Linked DNA regions of Homo sapiens: region 2 is linked to region 1. Evidence: fine-mapped expression QTL. Tissue or cell type: whole blood. Region 1 holds a variant in brackets; the other region holds the start of a gene. All regions are shown on one strand. Distances are from middle to middle.

The links. PIP is the estimated chance that this variant, and not a neighbour inherited with it, causes the effect.
Region 2: it holds the start of PLXDC1, and the variant in region 1 is fine-mapped to the expression of PLXDC1 in whole blood (GTEx, PIP above 0.99).

Annotation. Positions count from the first base shown.
Region 1 is chr17:39,092,855-39,100,956 of GRCh38, reverse strand. The region is part of intron 7 of PLXDC1 (plexin domain containing 1); the gene reads left to right. Among named protein-coding and RNA genes, the nearest start is that of PLXDC1, 55 kb to the left of the region's middle. RefSeq lists enhancers at 1,409-2,010, 7,884-7,953. The variant C/T (reference allele first, on the strand shown) is at 3,894.
Region 2 is chr17:39,147,421-39,155,522 of GRCh38, reverse strand. It overlaps PLXDC1 (plexin domain containing 1), which reads left to right and starts at 3,886. Exons shown (of 14, transcript NM_020405.5): 1 at 3,886-4,161. The coding sequence starts at 4,086. It overlaps TRC-GCA2-3 (tRNA-Cys (anticodon GCA) 2-3), which reads left to right and starts at 1,718; the gene lies at 1,718-1,789. It overlaps TRC-GCA2-4 (tRNA-Cys (anticodon GCA) 2-4), which reads left to right and starts at 961; the gene lies at 961-1,032. RefSeq lists a silencer at 903-972 and enhancers at 849-1,353, 1,354-1,860, 2,233-2,382.

The DNA.
Region 1 (8,102 bases):
TTGTCAAAATATTGAAATACTTGCATTCTTGTTGGCAAATTGCTGCTGATTTGAGCCCCCTCGTACCTCCCACGACCCCTCCTGCCCTCCCCTTAGCCCCCTGCGCTCCCAGTCCTCTATCAAGTATTACAGCCTGGGCTCCAGGACCTGGCTCCATGGCTGCAGGCAGCATCTGCTCTGACTGGTTGGTAAACGCCTGTGTTGAGCCAGTTGTTAAATCATCTCCGTATCACCTGGTTGCATTAGTTAGCTACAGCTGTATAACAAATTGCTCCAGAATTTAGTGGCTTAAAACTGCAACATATTATCTCAGAGTTTTTATGGATCAGGAAGCAAAGCACAATTCAGCCAGGACCTCTCATTCAAGGTCTTTCACAGGCTGCGACTGAAGTGTTAGCCAGCGGCCAGGCACGGTGGCTCACGCCCATAATCTCAGTTCTTTGGGAGGCCAAGGCAGGGGATCTCCTGAGGTCAGGAGTTTGAGACCAGCCTGGCCAATATGTCGAAACCCCATCCTTACTAAAAATACAAAAGTTAGCTGGGTGTGGTGATGGGTACCTATAATCCCAGCTACTTGGGAGGCTGAGGCAGGAGAATCGCTTGAACCCGAGGGGCGGAGCTTGCAGTGAGCTGAGATCGCACCACCTCACTCCTCACACCACTCACTCACGATTTCACTGGGTGAAAGAGTGAAACTCTGTCTCAAAAAAAAGAAAAAAAGTGTTAGCCAGGGTCACAGTTACCCCCGTGATGGGGTGGCAGGTGGGGAGGGTTGGGACCGGCTTCAGAGCTTTCATGTGGTTTGGCAGGATTCAGGATTCAGAATTCAGGATTCAGTTCCCCAAGGAGGCCTTCTTTGGCTCCTTGCCTGGTAAACTTCCCCATGATATGGCAGCTGGCTTCCATCAGAGCAGGCAAGCGAGACAAAAGCAGAGGGCGAGGAAGACGCAAACCAGGGTCTTTTTATAGCTTAATTTTAGATGTAACATCCTATCTTTTTTGCCACATTCCGCTGGCTAGAACCAAGTCACAGATCCAGTCTACGCTCAGGGACTGGATTGCACCTGGGTGTGGATACCAGGCAGCCACCGTAGAGGCTCTCTGGGGGCCATGCTAGCGTCTGCCTACCACACTGATTATAATCCTCTTTCCCATGCACTAAGCTGGACAGTGTCTTGGATCTTCCCCAAACATTGTGAGTTTGTACATTTGTCCCTTTCTAAATGAGGACACAAATGTTCAGAGAGGTAGAGTGACTTATCCTTGGTCACACAGCTATGAAAGGAAGAATTCAAGTCCAGATCTTCTCCATTTAAATCCTGGAGTCCACCACTGAGCCTTTCTTAGACTGACCCACTCCCATTCCACCCAGGGGAATCTTTTCCTCCTCAGCTCCCCCAAACACCCACAGAGTGGGGTGTGCAAACTCCCCAGGCTGCTTCTTGGGACTGTTCTTGGTGTCTGTGCCTTATTTCCTTCCCTATCCTGCATCCCATGTACATTACTGAGCCCACTGTCGGGGCAGGGATGTGTCTGTTTCATCTGCACCTCCCTCAAGGGCTTCTTCCAGGCAGAGTCTCAGGAAACGTGTGCCTGATCAAGCTGTGGAATGAGGGTGAATTAGAGGGGGTCAGATCCCCGGTAGCATCTGCCTCTGAGGCTCCTCTGTGATTCTGGAATGAGAAGCCCCTTTAGAGCAAACCAGAGAGATGAGGGGTGAAGGGGGCGGGGAAGCACAACCCACCTGAAAGAGCAGGGAGGCTATGTCTGCTCTGCAGGATCAGGAGGAAATCTCGGTGGTGGGAGCGGTTGGAGTCTGACTCCAGGTGCTGTGTGCTGAGGTGTTGGGTCTACCTGCCAGGTGAAAGCCAGCACCTGACCCCCAGACACTGCCAGCAGCTCCCAGCCTCGTCCTCCTTCCCTCTGTCTCCTGTTCCTCCTTGTCACCATCAGATCCGATCACATCACTCTCTGACTCCTTGCTGCCCACAGGTCAGGTCAAAATCCTCAGTGTGGCATTCAAGGCCGGGCACAGCTGGGTGCAGTCAACCACGCAGGCGCATTTCCAAACCCTCCCTCCGCTCACCGCCCTCTGCCTGGGGAGCTCTGGTCTGTGTCCCCTGGGTTCCCTGAACATGCTAAGGGCTGTCCACATCGGTATGACACAGTCCCCTTGTATAAAACGCCTCTTACTCCAATCTTTTTTACTGCTTGGCACCATTCTCCCTCTCCAGCGGCCCAGGTCAGATGCTGTGCAAGTAACCACTCCGCCATGCAGTGGAATTCACGGCTTCCTCTTCTTCCCCCCGGCACTTCGCTGATACTTTTTTCTTCTTCTTCTTTTCTTTCTAGTGGTGGCGAGAACAAATGCTGATACTCTTAACATAGAACTTATTGTCCTCCCCAGCTAGGTGTGAATTCCTTGGGGGCTCTCTATGGCCCCCAGCAGTGAGCCCAGTGGGCAGGCACTAACATTTTTAGAAAATGAGTAACTACAAGAAAGTGGACCTAGTTGCTGGGGTTAGGGCACCGCTGAAGGGAATGGACATAGCATAGACCTTGTCCTCTGCTCTATTGTGACTCTAGGTGAGAACAGGGGTCTGACACCACTTGAGTTTGGGAGTTGAGTGTTTTGGAAATTGCATCCCTTTTTGTCAGAGGTTTTTAGCTTACGGGAACAAGCATAAAATTCAGGAAGTCTGGGAATCTTAAAATTGTATACGGATTTTTTTTTTTTTTTTTTTTTTTTTTGAGATGGAGTTTCACTCTTGTTGCCCAGGCTGGAGTGCAATGGCGCAATCTCGGCTCACTGCAACCTCCACCTCCTGGGTTCAAGCAATTCTCCTGCCTCAGCCTCCGGAGTAGCTGTGATTATAGGTGCCCGCCACCACGCCTGACTAATTTTTGTATTTTTTAGCAGAGACGGGGTTTCACCATGTTGGCCAGGCTGGTCCTGAACTCTGACCTCAGGTGATCCGCCCACCTTGGCCTCCCAAAGTGCCGGGATTACAGGCGTGAGCCGTTGCACCTGGCCTTTTTTTTTTTTTTTTTTTTATAGACAGGGTCTTGCTCTGTCGCTCAGGCCGAAGTGCAGTAGCACAATCATAGCTCACTGCAACCTCAACTTTCTGGGCTTAAGCGATCCTCCTGCCTCAGCCTCCTGAGTAGCTGAGACTATAGATGTGTACCACCATGCCCAGCTTATTTATTTATTTATTTATTTATTTATTTATTTATTTATTATTTGTAAAGACAAATAATAAAATAGGGTGGTATTGAATTCTTACGCTCAAGCCATGCTCTGGCTTTGGCCTCCCAAAGCACTGGATTACAGATGTGAGCCACCGTGTAAGGCCTGTATGTGGAGTATTGAAATGCAAGTGGAACATGTTCACATCCATGCGTTTTTCTGGGACAGTATCCATGGCCCTCATTGGGGTTTAAAATGGGCCACAGCCTCTGCTCCTGGGGAGAAATGGCTTTTATGTGGCTAAGGGGTCAGATGACTTTGGGTCTCACATTCAATCCGGCAAGCAGGGAATTTGTTTGGATTAGGTTGAGCTGCAGGTAATAGTAAACCCCAAATGATCATGGCTTAAAGGAAACAGAAGTTCAGGAAGAGCCATCTGGTCTGCAGACCCTATGATCACCATGGATAATCCTATTGACCAAGCCCACCTGATCATACAGAATGGGTGGCGTCACTGTCCTTGTGCCCAGGTTTGACTGCTCCCTGCCTGGGGCAGTGTGAGGAGGGGAGTTTGATTCCTCACTATTTAGGAATCCCCAGCCACTGAACCCTGTCTGGGGAAAACTCTCCTCCCCCAGGTTCTAAACACTTTCCTCCCCACCCCTGCTAGGCAAGGGGATGGGAGGTGCAATGGGGAGGACTC[C/T]TCACAGCCTCACTCCTGGGGGAGAGGGTAGAAGAGGCTGAAAACCACAAGAGTTCTTACCAGTACTTCCTCGTATAAACTCTTCCGCAGGCTTTTCAGCAGAGTCTGCAAAGCATCTTTGGTGAAAAGAAAAGTCATGTGCAATTAGCAGCATCTGTTTGCAGAGGCACTCAAAACACACAGGACAGTGTATCCGCTATGTGGCTGGGGAGACCGCCGGAAGTCAATATTATTTCCTCTGTTCATTTGCTTAAGAAACTCTTTATTTCATGGTTAGTATAAAAGCAACTTTAGCATTGCCAACATCGAAACTGACAGGGATTCTGAATTAGTGGGATCAGTTAGTGAGGATTTTCTTACAAAGAGCTCCAGAATGTAGCCTGCCCCTTGGCTGGCCCCGAATGGCCTTGGACGGCCCCAACATGCTGGTCCTCCTCCTTTACCGGAACTTTCCTGTCCTTTCCGAGGCAGACTTGAGTCCAGATATATGTCAGGGCCTGAGCTGTGTGTACCTTCCTGCCAGGCTGCAGGTAAGGGAGGGGTGGGTCCCAGAGCAGGCTACAGAAGGGATCTAGGGGCAGCCACGTGAGGAAGTGGGTGCAGGGAGAAGCTGAGGATCTGGCCAATTTTGCCTTTTCTGATAAAGGATCCTTTAAAGTGCCCTTCGTTGGAAGTTTTTAATCCATCTGGGGGCCCATCCTTCCCTCTTTTCCCTTCTCACTTCTGTTTTTCCCACTACTCTGCTCCCTGAGTCATTTCTGGCCTCTTCTTTCTCTGCCTTTTTCTGCTTTGCTTCAATGCTGAGGGACCCCCCTACTTCTCCCCCGTGGGGCAGGGTCCCCTGCTGGGGCTCCACTCGTGATTATTGAATGAATAATCACATGAGCCAAGGAACAAAAGAATGCATGAAGACTTTTTCCCAACCCAACCTCTTAGATTTTTTTATACGGTAACCACCCATTCCAGGTGGGAGTTTGTGGATCGACCTGTCATCTCCTAACTTCTTCTGGCCAAGCCAGCACTCTCCCATGGGCATCTGGCATTGAAACACAAAGGGACATGCAAACCTCTCACTTGAACCATTAACATTACTTGTTTGGGGCCAGGCATGGTGGCTACGCCTGTAATCCCAGCACTTTGAGAGGCCGAGGCGGGTGGATCGTTTGAGGCCAGGAGTTTGAGACCAGCCTGGCCAAGATGGTGAAACCCCATCTGTACTAAAAATACAGAAATCAGCCAGGTGTGGTGGCAGGCACCTGTAATCCCAGCTCCTCGGGAGGCTGAGGCAGGAGAATTGCTTGAACCCGGGAGGTGGAGGCTGCAGTGAGCTGAGATTGTGCCACTGCACTCCAGCCTGGGCGACAGAGCAAGACCCTGTCTCAAAAACAAAAACAAAACAAAACAAAAACAACCCCCCCGCCAAAAAAAAAAGACAAAAAACAAAAACATTTCTTGTTTGGGCAGCAGTGTTTGCCAAGTCTGGACCTGAGTATTTCTGAATCTTTGATGCCTGGAAGCAGAGATAAAACAGAACACCTTAAACTGCCAGAAATGGTGCTCTGGGGAAGCCTGCGTCTTGGTTCCAGAAAGGATCTGTTGGTCATGGAGATGGAAGTCATTGTCTTGGGCAAGCTCCAGATGTTGGTGAAACAATCCAAAACAAATAACCCAGGCTTGGGGGGTTGGGGGGGGGGGGCGGGGCGTAAGGATTCTTTTATTAAAAAAATAAAAATATTACCAAACCCACACTCGAACAAGTACAAGCTGGCAGTTGAAGTGAGCAAATAGTTTCAATTAGAGATATAGTTCCACCCCCCACCCTCATCCCCCTTTCTGCCACCACTCAGCCTCCCCCACTCCGCTGGAAGGACTGTATTTTCAGAGGACAGCTGGCATCCCTGGCTGCACCCATGCTTGGGGCACATCCCCAACTCTGCCCCCCAGCCCGGATGGTGGGGAAACCCATCCCTAGAGCCTGGTGTGAAGTTTCTAGGAGACTTGGCTTCCCTGGCTGCCACTTGTGTCTCTATCCTCGAACTCAGTTCCCTTGAAAAGTCTGAGTCTCTATCTGTGCCCCACCCTGAGTCCCTTTGTCCCTCCCATTTCCCCTTCCTTCTGATGAGGGAAAGCTCTGCCCTGCAGCCTTGCAGGTGGAGAAATCCTGAAAGCCAGCTCTCCTCCCGCTTTGAGATCTAGCTTAGGAGGCGGCATGTCTGGTTTACTGTGGTCTTTCAGGGTTGTCCTTTTGAGAATGGCAGTAATTTGTGGTGGGCTGGGGAGGGAGGGCGTGCTTCCTTTGGGCTGTGGGCTGACGTTATAAGTTGCTGAGGTTTTCATGACTATTTGTAACCCATTCATTCACTCACAGTCATTTCTTAAGGTCCTGTTAAGTGCAAGGCCTGGTGCTAGGGGATGAGGTACAGAGATAAATTCCATGCAGACTCTGTCTTAGCGGAGCTTGTGGTCTGGCTGCGGGAGTGGCCAGGAGAGCAGATATTGACCAAGCGATGTAATGGGGGACACTGGACATTGCTCAGGGAGTTGTAGACTCAGAGTGGGGCCGGGTCGGGGGGCAGTCACTTTGCCTGAGAGTGGGGGAAGTCTTCAAGGAGGGGACGTCATTTGAGCTGAGTCTTGAAGTATGAGGCAGTTGAAGCAAGAAAGGTTGACATTGGACTCTAGAACCTATGGCCTCAGGCACCCTGGAAGTCAGGACATGGGAGACTTGGAGTTTCATGTTTATTTTTGATCCCATTGCGTTTTGGTGCTGAAGGGGAAGGAGAGATGGCCCCTGGGAGTAATGAGTGGGGATGGTGTGTGAAAGTCTGCTTCAAACTTTCCATCCTCATCTAGATATTCCCAGGCCCCCAGGCTTACTCAGAGCCCAGGCCACCTTCTCATGGCCATTGGCATCACTCAGGGGCACCTGCAGCACAGGTGGCCTTGGTGCCACCTCTGGGCATGTGAATTACAAAAAGGTGCCCATCCTCCAATCTCTGTCAGATCCCACTCGGGCTTGGCAAAGGGTCTTTCTTGTGTCAAAGGGTTGCATATGTGTGTGCATATGAGTATGTGCTCATGTGCAGGTGTGTGTGTGTCTTGGAGGGCTGGGGTGTGCACATGCGTGTGCGGGGCTCTGTGAACCCCTCGCCACCTCAGCTTTCCATGGAGGGTTCCCTCCTCTTAGAGCCACAGTGACTCTGTAGACACCCGGCAGTTACTGCCTGATATTTACGAGGCTTGCCACGGGGCCTCCTCTCTCAGACTTAGGGTTCTTTAGGAGACAAACACACAGTCATTCCATCTTTTGGATTTTGGCTTAATTTTATATATATATATATATATTTTAAGACGGAGTCTTTCTCTGTCGCCCAGGCCGGAGTGCAATAGTGCAATTTCGGCTCACTGCAGCCTCTGCCTCCCGGGTTCCAGCGATTCCCCTACCTCAGCCACCCGGGTAGCTGGGATTACAGGCGCGTGCCACCATGCCTGGCTAATTTTTGTATTTTTATAGAGATGAGGTTTCACCATGTTGGCCAGGCTGGTCTCAAACTCCTGACTTCAGGTGACCCGCCCACTTTGACCTCCCAAAGTGCTGGGATTACAGGCATGAGCCACTGTGCCCGTAATTTTTAAATAAATGTTTTTATTTTTAAATAAACAACTGGGCTCGGTAAATTGTAAAGAGATGTGGCCTGACGCAGTGGCTCGCGCCTGTAACCCCAGCACTTTGGGAATTGGAGGCGGGAGGATTGCTTGAGGCCAGGAGTTTGGGACCAGCCTGGGCAACATAGGGAGACCCTGTCTCTACCAAAGAATAAAAAAAAATTACCAGGGCATGAGCCTTTGGTGGGGGAGGTGGAGCTGGGGGCAGGGACTGAAGTGGGAGAATCACTTGAGCCCACGAAGCCAAGGCTGCAGTGAGCCGTGATTGCACCACGGCACTCCAGCCTGGCAACAGAGTGAGACCCTGTCTCGAACAAAACAAAACAAAACAAAAAAGAAAGAAATGTAAATGTTTCCCTTTGACTCTTTTAGAAACACAAATCAGGAAGCTCTCAGCAGGGGTGTGCTGGAGATCATGTATGCAGCTGGGTGAGAGGCAACTGAACATGTCTCTTCCTAACTCCATGTTCAGTAACTTTTTTGAAAGGGTAGCTGGAAGTCAGCTACCGTGGAAGTATTTACACCACAGAAATTGGCAACAAC
Region 2 (8,102 bases), 55 kb before region 1:
AGTAGCTGGGACTATAAGCGCGCACCACCACGCCCTGCTAATTTTTTTGTATTTTTAGTAGAGATGGGGTTTCACCATGTTGGCCAGGATGGTCTCGATCTCCTGACCTCGTGATCCGCCCGCCTCGGCCTCCCAAAGTGCTGGGATTACAGGCGCGAGCCACCGCGCCCGGCCAGGATTTTAAAAAAAATACTGTATTAGGATTTTTATAAGGCTGTAGTAAATGCTATTGAAAAATGCTTACCTCTTATTTCAGCCTTCTCCTCTGTCTGTTCCTCAAACTGGCTTTTGGTTTGAGAGAAGGGGAGGAGCGACCCTGGGGTTGGAAAAGCCCAGGAGACAAGATGGAGATCCAGTCTGTTCATCTGTACATCCCTGGACCTGGGGCGGTCCTGGGGACAGTCCTTTTCTCAAGCCAGTCAGTGGACATTTGGGGGAGAGTCTAGGCACGGATATAGAGGACCCAATATTCCTTTTTTTTTGAGACAGAGTCTCGCTCTGTTGCCCAGGCTGGAGTGCAGTGGCGCGATCTCGGCTCACTGCAAGCTCCGCCTCCAGGGTTCACGCCATTCTCCTGCCTCAGCCTCCCGAGTAGCTGGGACTACAGGCGCCCGCCACCACACCCGGCTAATTTTTGTATTTTTAGTAGAGACGGGGTTTCACTGTGTTAGCCAGGAGGTCTCGATGTCCTGACCTTGTGATCCACCCGCCTCGGCCTCCCAAAGTGCTGGGATTACAGGCGTGAGCCACCGCTCTCGGCCCAAGATTCCTTAATCTAGTTGGTTTTCCGAAAGCGTGGCTATGAAGGAAGAACTCAGGAGTTCTAGCCATTCCCATTGTATTTTGTGTTTTTTTCAGTAGGTATCCCGACGCAACCCTCAGATTAAAACTTTAAGGGAAAATGAAGACCACACCCCTATTCCATAGAAATTAACTCTAATGACAACGTAGTGGCGTGGCGGGGGTATAGCTCAGTGGTAGAGCATTTGACTGCAGATCAAGAGGTCCCCGGTTCAAATCCGGGTGCCCCCTCTGTGCTCCGGAGTTACCTCGTTTTGTTGGTCTCCGGAGGTCCTCTAAAGAGTTCCCGCACAGATGGAATGGGAGGGAGTCTCGAGCCCTGCCACCCTTTTTGCTTTCGCAGGCGAGTGAGGATGGAGTCCTGGCCCCTGCCAGTGGCTCAGCCTGTGTGTGTACCCAGGGTAGAATGCAATGCGAGTGAGGGCGAGGAGCTCCGGGCTGACCCTTGGAACACGGTACGGGTGGCTCAACCTCGCAATGGCAGGGCGGAGGCGAGCGCACCCCCAGGTCAGCCTGGCTCTTTCTTGGCGGGAAGGAGGCTGAGTTTCTAAGGGCTGGGCTGGGGAAGACAGGTCGGGAGAAGCCGCGTGAGCATGTGGGAGGGAGAAAGAAGCTCCGAGACGTGGCAAGGGGTCTTCTGCAGGGCAGGAGAGTGGGACGCCCCCGAAGTGAAATATTTCGAGAGACTTCTCCTTCCACACCCCAGGAATATATTTTCTTATACTGCCAGTGGGGATCTTCAGCTCAGAGCTTCAGGGAACAACCCCTGCTTCCAAGTGAGTAATTCTTCTGGGAGTTGTATTTTTTCCATCTCTTGTAAACGTCTTACCCCACTTCCACTTCCCTTCGGGAACGCCACACAGCGCCTGCGCAGCAATACCACTAAACGACTACGTGCGGTCGGTTTGCCGGCAGAGGGGGTATAGCTCAGTGGTAGAGCATTTGACTGCAGATCAAGAGGTCCCCGGTTCAAATCCGGGTGCCCCCTCTTTGGCCTTTTCGAGATACTGTTTTTGTCCTGGGTGTCGATTTTTCCTAAGCTGTTTGCTTTTACTCCTACTGGCAGACGAGGAGCAGTGAGGGACTGAAAGGAACTGGGGATTCAACAGCAGTGGCTCTCAAAATGTGGTCCTGGGACCAGCAGCATTACCTGGGTACGCTCGGGCCTCATCCCAGACCTAATGAATTAGAAACTTGAGGGTGGAGTCCAGAAATCTGTGTTTTCATATACGCTCCCCATCGCTTGAGTCCAGGAGTTGGAAGCTGCAGTGAGCTATGATCGCAGCACTGCACTCCAGCCTAGGCAACGTGCGAGAACCTGTCTCAAAAAACAAACAAAATACACACACACACACACACACACACACACACACACACACACACACACCCTGCAGGTGATTACGATCTCAAGTTCTAGAGGCTTACGTTAAAATTTACACATTTGCTTCTACTATTTACAAGTTTATGTTTCAGCCTGAGCTCTTCTTGTAAGACAGACCACGAGGTACCCCAGATGGAGGAATGTGCAAAGACGCCGGGGCTGGAGCTGGAATCCGTCCCGAGACTTCTCACCTTGACCTCGAGGAAGGCAGGAGGTCGGAGACAGGGGGTGGGCAGGCTGGGGAAAGAGGAAACCCGCAGGACAAGAGGGTTGTGGCTCGTCACGTGGCCACTTGAGGGCAGCAAGTAGCTGCAGCTGGAGGTAGCTGCCTATCTGATTCTGTTTGAGAGTCCGCCAAGTTGGGATTTAAATTAGACATCAAGAAGAATTTACAGACCGGCCTTGCCTTGTTCCACGGTAAGGGGACATTGGGTTTAGGGCTGGAGGAGGTAGTCTCTGGGACTCTGGGCCCGGCGGAAGGAGGAACCGGCGTTCTAAGAGATTAGAGAGCCTTTAGTTGTTTCCTTTCTTAGGTGTTTTTTTTTCTTTTCTTTTCTTTTTTTTTTTTTTAACCTCAGTGCCACGGAATCCGTCTCTTCCAGCCCACAGTGTACCTTCTCCTGTCCCCGCCCATATCCCTCCTCCTGGAAAATTTCTCCAATGGCGCTCAGCGTTCGCACCCTTCCTCTCCGCGGTTTTCTAGTCCCTAGGCCCCAGCCCACTAGAAGCCAGGATGCCCCCTCACCCCGTCTCCCACTCTCCAGCGCCCCAGCTCCTTGCCGTCACAAGAACGAAGTAGGTCAGGGGAGGGAAGAGGCATCTTCGTGTCCTGACCTGATTCCTTGCCGTCTATTAAATATCCTACATTGCGGGTATTTTTATTCTGTCCTGGAAGAAAAAATAAAAAGATTATCTATCCCCAGAGCCTGTCAGAAGGTGGTGACAGGTGGGGTGAGCCATTTCCTCGTCTGGGGCTGGCTCTGAAGATTGATTGGGTCTGGCCCTGAGTAGGCCTGGAGGCCCCAGAGAGGCAGGAGGCCTGGGTTACCTACTCGTGGGGAGGGGTCCAGACTGTTGCAGAGTAAGGGGTAGCCAGGCCCCCTCCACCCTCACGTCTGCTAGGCTTGGGGGGCAAATCGGTGCTGGAAATGGGGGGTGGAGGGATAAGGTGGAGTCATGGAAGGGGGGTGGGATTCAGGCCCCTCTTGGGGAGAAAAGCTGGGGGTCTTTGCTGCAGGGGGAGATTTCTGGGGGTGGGGGCTGGAGGACAAAGCATCAGAGACGCACAGAATTCCGAAGAACAGCTCAGGAAGTCGCAGAGCTTGGAGGAGCTGGGGGCGGGGAACAGTCAGGGGCCCGTGACCCAGGGATGGGGCGCCTGTCCCTTCCAGGGGTCCAGTCCTCGGGCCTTCTCTCTGCAGCTTTCCCGGCGGAACGGAGGAGGGAAAGGGAGCCAGGAGCTCAGTGAGGAGCGCGGGGCGGCTGATGCTTCTAGGGGTTCTCTCAGCCCGAGGGGCTCCCGCCCTGTCCCCTACTCTGCACCCCTTGCCTTGGGAGCGGCTGCAGAGCTCTAGGGGAGCGCTCCGTTAGGGCTGAGGGCAGGCGCCGGGAGAGCCCCCAACGACGCCGCGCCCCCCGCCCCGCCCCCTGCCCCAGCTCCCCCCCACCCCCACCGACCCAGCGGCCCCCCCAGCTCCCCGCCTGCTCCCGGAGGCCGCAGCCTCCAGCTCCGCTCGCGCTCTCGCCGCTCCTGCCGGCTCGCCCGGCCCCGCGCTCCGCCGTCTCCTCGCCGCCCGCCCCTCCGCCAGCCCCGGGGACCGCGCGGCCGCAGCCTGAGCCAGGGCCCCCTCCCTCGTCAGGACCGGGGCAGCAAGCAGGCCGGGGGCAGGTCCGGGCACCCACCATGCGAGGCGAGCTCTGGCTCCTGGTGCTGGTGCTCAGGGAGGCTGCCCGGGCGCTGAGCCCCCAGCCCGGAGCAGGTAGGACTGGCGGGAGCCGGCCCGGGTGGGCCGGGGGCGGGGAGGGACGGGCAGTCAGGTGTGGGCATGGGCAGGTGTGGACGGCCTGGCGATGTCCGCGAGGGGGGCATTGTCCGCAGGAGGCCAGGAGAGCTGTGGGCTGTGGGCAGGTGGATAGGGACCCCACTTTCCCAAACACATAGGGTGTGTGAGTGACGGTGGAGACACCGATGCCCGGACCTCTCCTTCTCTCCTGGAAGGATACTGGAGGGACCTTAGGAGAGGGGGCTCTATGTGGCCATGGGCTCTGAAAGGGGACAGCGGGAGAGTCATCAGGACCCCTGATCACCCCAGGCAAGGCTGAATTCTGATGAGATGGGAGCCTGGGGAGGCCCCTGCCCCAGCCATGCCTTCTTTTCCTCTTCTCTGCCACACCCCCGACCCCAAAGCTGATCCAGGCTAGGGATAGGTGGGAGCAGCCAGGGGGATGGTGGGGACACAGCGTCTCTGCCTGGGAAGGCAGCAGCCATTCGGTCACCTTCCCTTGCCTATTTGGTGTCAGTAGAGAGGCAGTGGGCCCAGGAAGAAGCAACTTGCTGCTTCTGCACCCCCAGCCTCAAGAGTCCCCCTCCTCACACCTGCTCCCATTTGCCCTGGCAGCCTTTGGCTTTCAGCTACTCTGGCTCTAGATGGGGCACTGGGGTAGGGGGTGGAGGGAGGCGTCCCATTCTGCACACTCCTCTTCCCCCCTACCAGTTCTCCAAACTCATCTCTCCCACCTGGAAGTCCTTTCTGAGATCTACCTGGAATCCCTCATGGTATAATTTTCATAGTCTCTGTTCTCCCCTAAGCACCTAGACTTTCTCTGGGGTTGGGGAGATGGGTAATTTGCAGCCTGGCCCCTCAGCAGAGATGATTAAGAAGATAGATACCTGTGCATCATTGGCATGGGTGCCCCTCAGGTGGGGTGAGGGAGGCGCTGTTGAGGTGAGTGCTGTGGTTGACCTGCTGTGTCTCAGGAGTGTGCTGGCACCAGGCACAGTGTCAGTGGCAATGTTCTTGACTTTAATGGTCCCAGCATGTAGCTGAGACAGACCTGGGTCCCTATTGAGAAGAAGAGTATGTTGGGGGTGGGAGGGGAAGGAGGCTGACAGTGGGAAGTATGGGCAGAGGGCAGTGGAGCTGACGAACCGAGAAGCTGCTGGTGAGAACCACCAATTTTCAGGGAGACCACACAGAGGGTGGCCAGAGACGTGGCTTCTAGTCCCGCCATCTCACTTGCTGTGTGACTTTAGACAAGTTACTTTCTCTCTCTGGACCTATTTTTGCATTTATAAAGTGAGGCTGTTGGCAAAATCTTTGACTCTTGTGCGTGGAATAATGAAGGATCTTTTATAATTGCCTTTCCTTTTCATATTTGTTAGGGTCTTTATGGGTAACTGATACTTTAAAAAAATCAAGGTAAACAGGAGAGAGTTGGATATGTTATGAATAATTTCTGGGCTCCTTTGAATCCTCAACCTGGTGTGATCTTCTGAACTCTGGGTGTAACAGAGTTTATGAGGGGAGGATCTGAACCTTTGGCTGGATTGTGTGAACCACGGAGAGGGCTGGGGAAGGGGGAATTGGGAGGTAACAAGGATGGGCTGGGAGATAGTGGCCAGACCCGGGCCTGGCTGAGGGCGGCCCCTTCAGAGTAGGGTTGGGGTAGTAGACGGTTGAGGAGACCAGGAAGAGTGGGGCAGGCAGAGACTTGAATCACTTCTCTAAGTAGAGGCTATCCTGTCTTCTTGGCTTTGACAGAGATTGAGCCAGGAGAAATGCACTTTTTCTGCAGCAGGAGGGATAGAGGTTAGACTTAAGGAATCTGTAAGAAGCCAGAGGCGGCAGCTGTTGACTCCCAGTCCGGTGCCCTTTTCACAGGCCAGGTGGGATTTCACAGGCAGGAGGACCTATGAGGAGGAAGCGGGTGTCTGGGGAGGCCAGATGTAGGAGAAGGACGTTCTGGGGGAGAGTTGCTAAGGAGGGGCAGCCTGACCTGATTGATGGCGGAGTTGTTGTGACCAGTGGAAGGGCAGCTGGGAGCAGGACCTGAAGAGATGCTAGCATCCTTCCCCAAGGCTCTGGGTTTGTGGGGCTGGTGGGGGGCCTTGGGAAGTAGCTGAGATCTCCCCTCGCTCCTGATGGACAGGCTTGTTTGGTAGAGCCTTGAAACCTCATCTATCATTAGAACAGCAGCAGCAGAGAGATGAGTGGCCCAAAGACAGAGTCAGACAGCAGGGGAGACCAGGATGACAGACAGGAAAATGGCCTTGGGGTGCAGAGCAGGGGCCCAGGGAACTGACAGTCTGGTCAGATGGAACCAGAGGTGCATATGACAGATAAAGAAGAGGCAGCGAGAGTTGGCATCCTGGCCTGGGAGTCCTGCAGGAGGCCAGGCTCAATACCAACTACTGGTGACCCTGACAGCTTCCTCCTTTCTCTGAGGAAGGTTTCCCCGTCTATAAAATGGGGGCTTGCACCAGTCACGGTGGCTCATGCTTGTGATCCTAACACTTTGGGAGGCTGAGGTGGGAGGATAGCTTTAGACCAGGAGTTTGAGACCAGCCTGGGCAAAATAGTGAGACCCCATGTCTATAAATGATTTAGGCCAGGCAGGGTGGCTCATGCCTGTAATCCCAGCACTCTGGGAGGCCGAGGCCGGCGGATCACCTGAGGTCAGGAGTTTGAGACCAGCCTGGCTAACATGGTGAAACCCCGTCTCTACTAAATATACAAAAATTAGTATATTTAGTATTGTTATTAATATTATTAATATTAGTATATTAGTAAAAATTAGCCAGGCGTGGTGGTGCATGCCTGTAATCTCAGTTACTCAGGAAGCTGAGGCAGGAGAATAGCTTGAACCCGAGAGGCAGAGGTTATAGTGAGCTGAGATCGCACCACTGCACTCCAGCCTGGGCAACAGAGTAAGACTCTGTCAAAAAAAAAAATTAAAATTAAAATAAAAAATTAGCTGGGCATGGCGGTGTGCGCCTGTAGTCCCAGGTACTCGGAAGGCTGAGGCAGGAGGATCGTTTGAGCCCAGGAACTGGAGGCTGCAGTGAGCTATGATCATGCCACATAGTGAGGGCAGCATAACGAGGTCCCATCTTTTTTTAAAAAAAGGAGGGAAGGAGGTTGGACCAGATTGTCTCTAGGGCTCCAACAACCTGAGACTAAAATGCGAACTTATGGAGGTCAGGCAGCCCCTCCCTCATCCCACCATCTTCTCTAGCTCTCCCCAGATTCACCCCTTAACCCACTCCAGCTGCCGTCCCCTCCGATCGACAGATAACTAACTGGCTTCTTCTCATTCAGGTCTTAATCAGCTCAAGGGGACCCTCCTCAGAGAGCCCCACCTCATGGCTCTGTGTAGAGTAGCAACAACCCCAACCCTTTCCTCTGTCTGATTTTCTTCATAGCCCTTACCAAATGATTCATTTTGTATGTCTCCATGAAGAAAACTAGACTCTTCCTGGGTACAGGGCTTGTGTCCCCCCAGCACCCAGCACAGTGCCTGCGACTCAATAAAAGTGTATTGAATGAATGAGTGAGTGACTGAGTGAGTATATCAGAGGTGGCACAGATCCCAGACTCTCCCCTCAAGGGACACACATAGAGAGCTGAACTCTTCTTGCTGTCCCTCCCTTCCCCTCCCCTCCCCTTCCCTCCCTCCCTCTTCCCTTCTGCTACCTGGTGGTCCCTCCCTGCACTTCCTTTGACTCCTTCCCTCTCCCCAGGTGAGGGTCCTCAGTGGGTCCCTACCTGCCAGAGGAAAGGGAGAGGGTATGGTTAGGGGCTTTGTAACTTGGAGGCAGGATTTCAGTTTAGGGTTTGGAGCCTTCCCTGGCCCCTCTGAAAGCTGGTCCTGTGACCCTAACTGGTGTGTTGCCCAAGGTGCAGCAAGTTGACACACCAAC